Homo sapiens: one gene and its partner. The protein of the gene in region 1 interacts with the protein of each later gene in a pairwise test. Each region holds a gene or a part of one and is shown in the gene's direction. Other genes may lie near its edges. The genes, in order: MORC3 and ZMYM5.

Region 1 (2,994 bases):
CCTCCTGGGTTCAAGCAGTTCTCCTGCCTCAGCCTCCCGAGTAGCTGAGATTACAGGCGGCTGCCATCACACCCAGCTAATTTTGTATTTTTTGTAGAGATGGGGTTTCTCCATTTTGGTCAGGCTGGTCTTAAACTCCTGATCTCAGGTGATCTGCCCACCTCAGCCTCCCAAAGTGCTGGGATTATAGGCGTGAGCCACCATGCCCGGCTGGTTTTTCATTTTCTAGGTACCACTTTTTTTTTTAAATCAAGTGGTAATATGTTGTATTCTCTCAGTGTAAAAAGATGTAGAAGTGAAGCTGTAAACGAATGAAGCCTTGTTTATAGAAAACTACTGGTTTTTCTTTGTGTATTTGTTTTTTGATAGTTGATAATGTTATCAAGCAGGTTCTCTATATTAGCTTGAAATTTCACTTTGCCATTAGTATTTTTAAGTTTTACAGTTATAAAGCTCATTTATATTTTTGTTAGGTTGAATTGCTGGAAATGGAAAAGTCACAAATCCGTTCACAGTGTGAAGAACTCAAAACTGAAGTAGAACAGTTAAAATCTACAAATCAACAGACGGCAACAGATGTTTCAACATCAAGTAACATTGAGGAGTCTGTAAATCATATGGATGGAGAAAGGTAATATTAAATGAGGCGTTTTTGTGGGGCTGCAATTATGGTTAGGATACTATTTATTTTTATCTGCTAGCACCCATCAAATAGATACTGTTCTGTCAAAAGAAGTTATTGATGGTCTGCTGTGACCCTGGTGTTATGATAGATAAAAAAGAAGTGACACTTCATTATCCTTCCTTTCCAGTTTCTGACCCTTTAGGTTCTATTTAAGTGGAATAGGAATTTAGAAGGGATAAAGCATTTGATTGGTCAGAGTGGTTTTAGAATGCTTTTTGAAGGAAAATAAAAATGGACAAGATATTGAAGAATAGGGGGAATTTGGCCATGAGTAGAAGACAGGAGACTTTTACTGAAACTCACTCCTTCAACCTGTTTTTCTTTTATTGTCGTACTTGGTACCATGTCTTTATGGCTTGCTGTCCTTATTTCACTGTATGCTCACTCTAATCTTTTAGGAAATTGCAAAATTATTAAAAATTGCCATAGTACAGATGATATTAGGAAGAAGTCCTATTAAAACAAGTAGATAGGCCAGGCGTGGTGGCTCACACCTATAATTCTAGCACTTTGGGAGGCTGAGTTGGGCGGATCACCTGAGGTCAGGAGTTCAAGACCAGCCTGGCCAACATGGTGAAACCCTGTCTCTACTAAAAGTACAAAAATTAGCCGGGCGTGGTGGCAGGCGCCTGTAGTCCCAGCTACTCGGGAGGCTCAGGCAGGAGAATCGCTTGAACCTAGGAGGTGGAGGTTGCAGTGAGCCGAGATTGCGCCACTGCACTCCAGCCTGGGTGACAGAGCAAGACTCTGTCTTAAAACCAAGCGTGGTGCCTCATGCTTGTAATCCCAGCACTTTGGGAGGCCAAGATGGGTGGATCACTTGAGGTCAGGAGTTCGAGACCAGCCTGACCAACATGGTGAAACCCCGTCTCTACTAAAAATACAAAATTAGCTTGGCATGGTGGTGCACACCTGTAACCCCAGCTACTTGGGAGGCTGAGGCAGGAGAATCGCTTGAACCTGGGAGAAGGAGGTTGCAGTGAGCCAAGATCGCGCCATCACGCTGTGGCCTTGGCAACAAGAGCAAAACTCCGTCTCAAAAAAAAAAAAAGCTGGTATGGGAACGATTAAAGTATTATCAAAGGTCTAGTGGACTCTTACCATAAAAGCTCACAAAAAAACATGCTCAAAATCACATTCTCCGCATTATCAGACTAAGGAAGAACATCTTGATCCCTTCATAGATTTCCACTCGAGAAAAATCAGTATCTAAATTAAATATGGACTTATTATATTGTAGTGGGGTAGGGAACAAGAACAACTGTAACACTCATTTTATGTGTTTGCCATAATATTTGAAGCAAAAGCTGCCTTACAGTTTAGGTGTTTATTGCTTAAATACTTTTGGGCATTTTTTAAAAAGTCTAGAATGTTGATATTCATAAACTTGGAAGGCATAATTATCTTAATCTATGGTTTCCCAGTGTTTTCAGCAAACCATTGTTCTCTGTAAATGCACGGTAACTTAAGCATGTAATAGGATCAGAGCAGTCCTACAATTATTATTATTATTATTTTTTTGGAGACAGAGTCTTGATCTGATGCCCAGGCTGGAGTACAGTTGCATAATCTCGGCTCACTGCAACCTCTGCCTCCCAGGTTCAAGCAATTCTCCTGCCTCAGCCTCACCAGTAGCTGGGACTATAGGTGTGCGCCACCACGCCCAGCTACATTTTGTATTTTTAGGGAGAGACGGGGTTTCACCATGTTGATCAGGCTGGTCTTGAACTCCTGACCTCAGGCGATCTGCCCGCCTCAGCCTCCCAAAGTGCTGGGATTACAGGCGTGAACCTCTGTGCCCGGCGTAAAAAAAAAGCTGCTTTAACATTGTTTAACACAATGTTTTGCAAGCTTATTTGACCACAGAACCTTTTATTACCTCTTACACAACTATGGATATCTTATAGAACATGTTTTAGATAATTCTGGCTAAGCATGGTGGTTCATGCCTGTAATCCCAGCACTCTGAGGTGGGCAGAATGCTTGATTGAGCCCAGGAGTTTGAGACCAGCCTGGGCAATATAGTGAAACCCCATTGCTACAAATAATAATAATAAAAATTAACCGGGCATGGTGGTGTGGGCCTGTGCTTCCAGCTACTCAGGAGGCTGAGGTGGGAGAATTGCGTGAACCCTGGAGAGCAGTGGTGCCATCGCAGCTCACTGCAGCCTTGACCTCCTGGGCTCAGGTGATCCCCCACCTCACCCTCTTGAGAAGCTGAGACTACAGGTGTCGTCACCAAGCCCGGCTAATATTTTGTGTTTTTAGTAGAGTCAGGGTTTCACCATGTTGGCCAGGCTGGTCTCGAA
Region 2 (3,500 bases), on another chromosome or scaffold:
CCTGGTCAACATGGTGAAACCCCGTCTCTACTAAAAATACAAAAATGGGCTGGGCATGGTGACTCACACCTGGAATCTCAGTACTTTGGGAGGCCAAGGCAGGCAGATCACCTGAGGTCGAGAGTTCAAGACCAGCCTGACCAACATGGAGAAACCCTGTCACTACAAAAAAAAAAATACACACACACACACACACACACATACACACACACACACACAAAATTAGCCGGGCCTGGTGGCACATGCCTGTAATACCAGCTACTTGAGAGGCAGAGGTTATGGTGAGCCGAGATTGTGCCATTGCACTCCAGTCTGGGCAACAAGAGCAAAACTCTGTCTCAAAAAAAAAAAAAAAAATTAAACGGGTGTGCTGGTGGGTGCCTGTCATTCCAACTACTCAGGAGGCTGAGCCAGGAGAATCACTTGAACCCAGGAGGCGGAGGTTGCAGTGAGCCAAGATCACACCACTGCACTCCAGCCTGGGCGACAGAGTGAGACTCCATCTATAATTCTTTTTTTTTCCTCTTTTTTTTTTTTTTTTTTTTTTTGAGACAGTCTTGCCCTGTCACCCAGGCTGGAGTGCAATGGCGTGATCTAGGCTCACTGCAACCTCTGCCTCCTGGGCTCAAGCGATTCTTGTGCCTCAGCCTCCTGAGTAGCTGAGACTATAGGTACATGCCACCACGTTGGCTAATTGTTGTATTTTTAGTAGAGACAAGGGACTGACCATGTTGGCCAGGCTGGTCTCGAACTCCTGACCTAAGTGATCCGCCCGCCTTGGCCTCCCAAAGTGCTGGGATGATAGGCACCCACTACCACACCCGGCCTGTGTAATTAGTTTTTTAAAAATTTTTATTTAAAATTTTTGTGGGTACATAGTAGGTGTTACATATATTGCATAATTCTTGACTGTTTTATTTATGATTAAGAATTGGGAACTAAAGGCCGGGCACAGTAGCTCACACCTGTAATCCCAGCACTTTGGGAGGCCAAGGTGGGCAGATCATGAGGTCAGGAGATTGAGACCATCCTGGCTAACACGGTGAAACCCCATCTTTACAAAAAATACAAAAAAAAAAATCAGCTGGGCATGGTGGCAGGTGCCTGTAGTCCCAGCTACTCAGGAGGCTGAGGCAGGAGGATGGCGTGAACCTGGGAGGTGGAGCTTGCAGTGAGCCAAGATCGCGCCACTGCACTCCAGCCTGGGTGACAGAGCGAGACTCCGTCTCAAAAACAAACAAACAAACAAACAAACAAAAAACGGGAACTAAAAAGCAAATTGGAAGAGTGAGAGTGGGGTTTCCAACTTGAAGCTTGCGGGTGATCTTCTGGCCAATTGATGGGGAACCCCATAGGTTAATATTTTTAGGACTTTCCTTTTTTGCTGATTCTTAGTTCCGCAGGGAAGAGTCTTGCTCAGAAAGAAAGCCTCCAGAAAAGAGTTTGCTGCCTGGAAAATAGAAGTCTGGATGCCAGCTCTCTGGGAATCAAGTAGGAGAGGGGACATTTTTTTTTTTGAGATGGAGTTTTGCTCTTGTTGCCCAGGCTGGAATGCAGTGGCGTGATCTCGGCTCACTGCAACCTCTGCCTCCTGGGTTCAAGCAATGGAGAGGAGATATTTCATGGTATTGAAACATTCCCCAGTGCTTGGTGAACCCAAGACTTAGATCTTATGTTCTATCTTATCAAAGAAAAAATTTTTAGAATCTGTGCTAGGATGGGGAAAGGCCTGTCACCATCAACTTGATGGGAGGGAAGATATCTCTCAACCTCTTTTCTTAGCATCTGCCCATTCTGTTCCAGGGATATGTGGTGCTACAGATTTCTGAGCCTACAGTGGAAATCAGAATGTTTCTTGGCTTTTTATTCACTGTTTTAGACTCTGGCTATCTCAGGTTGGCAGTTAACCATTCATCCATCTGTTCTTTGGCTTATAAAATCATATTGCTTTTGTTTCTTATTCTTCCTTTCCTTGTGGTAGTCCTGTTTAGGGGAGTTTTGGAAGGGAACGAAGTTAGTTGTATGTGATCAATCGGCCATCTTTTTTTTTTTTTTTTTTTTTTTGAAACAGCGTCTCTCAGTCTGTCACCCAGGCTGGAGTGCAGTGGCCCATCTCGGCTCACTGCAGCCTCTATCTCCCAGGCTCAAACAAGCTGCCTGCCTCAGTTTCCCAAGTAGCTGGGACCACAACCATGTGCCACTATGCCTGGCTAATTTTTGTATTTTTTGTAGAGACAAGGTTTCGCCATGTTGCCTAGGCTGGTCTTGAACTCCTGGACTCAAGCGATCCACCTGCCTAGGCCTCCCAAAGCGCTGGGATTACAGGGGCATTATACTGCACCTGGCCCACTTTACTGTCTTAATCCCTGCTGGGCTAGTGATTTCTAGGCAGAGTTGTTTTTTCTGTTTGTTTTTTGTCTTTGTGGTTTTTTTGTTTTTTTTTTTTAATTTTTAGAGACAGGTCTAACTCTGTTGCCCAGACTTTAGTGCTGTGGTGTGGTCATAGCTCACTGCAGCCCTGAACTCCTGGGCTCAAGTGATTCTCCTGCCTCAGTCTCCCAAGTAGCTGGGGATTACAGGCGTGCACCACCATGCCCAGCTAATTATTTTATTTTATTATATTTATTTTTTATTTTTGAGACAGGGTCTTGCTCTGTTGCCCAGGCTGGAGTGCAGTGGTGTGATCATGGCTCACTGCAACTTTGACCCCCTGGGCTCAAGCCATCCTTCCACCTCAGCCTCCCAAGTAGCAGCGACTACAGGCGTATGCCACCATGTTGGACTTTTTAAATTTTTGTAGAGAGGGGTCTCTCTGCATTGCCCAGGCTGGTCTTGAACTCCTGGGCTCAAGCTATCCTCCCATCTTATTCAGCCTCCCAAAGTGCTCAGATTATAGGCATGAGCCACTGTACCTGGCCTTTATTTTTTTGTAGAGATGAGTTCTCAGTTTGTTGCCCAAGTTGGTCTTGAACTCCTGGCCTCAAGTGATCCTCCTGCCTTGGCCTCCCTAAGTGTTAGGATTATAGGTGTGAGGCACCAGGCCCAATTTAGATAGTAATTTTGTACCTAGTTCCTGCAGTAATTCTCTTGCTATTTGTGGTAGTAGTTCAGTTGACTCTTCTTTTTTCTGATCTCATTACTTTTGTGAGTACCTTCAGAGTCATGGTACACCTTTATATCTGATTTTAAATAGGTGTGCTTATATACTCAACTGTGAAGTGTCTCTGAAAGTAGTCTACAAGAAGAGCTAAATAGGTCAAAGTACATTTATTCATTTCTTTGTTTTATGTTAACCCTTATCTTTACACCTAAATATCCCGTTAAATTTACGTTGTTTCCCATTCTCTAGAGATAGTTTACATGTAAGCATTTTGCTAGTGTTATAATTTGTGTATGAATAAGATACCACAAGAAGACTAGTTAAATGTTTAAAATTAGACAGTTGCTGAAATCCCAGCATGTAGCAATGTAGCATAGTATTTGCCTAAATACCTTTTTAT

Evidence for each region.
Region 2: the proteins of MORC3 (region 1) and ZMYM5 interact in a two-hybrid assay, tested with the Homo sapiens proteins (one large-scale study listed by BioGRID and IntAct).

The regions. Positions count from the first base shown.
Region 1 is NC_000021.9:36,371,901-36,374,894, forward strand, and holds part of MORC3 (MORC family CW-type zinc finger protein 3), read left to right. Parts: intron 1-473; coding exon 474-631; intron 632-2,994.
Region 2 is NC_000013.11:19,857,150-19,860,649, reverse strand, and holds part of ZMYM5 (zinc finger MYM-type protein 5), read left to right. Parts: intron 1-3,500. UniProt on the Homo sapiens protein: Functions as a transcriptional regulator.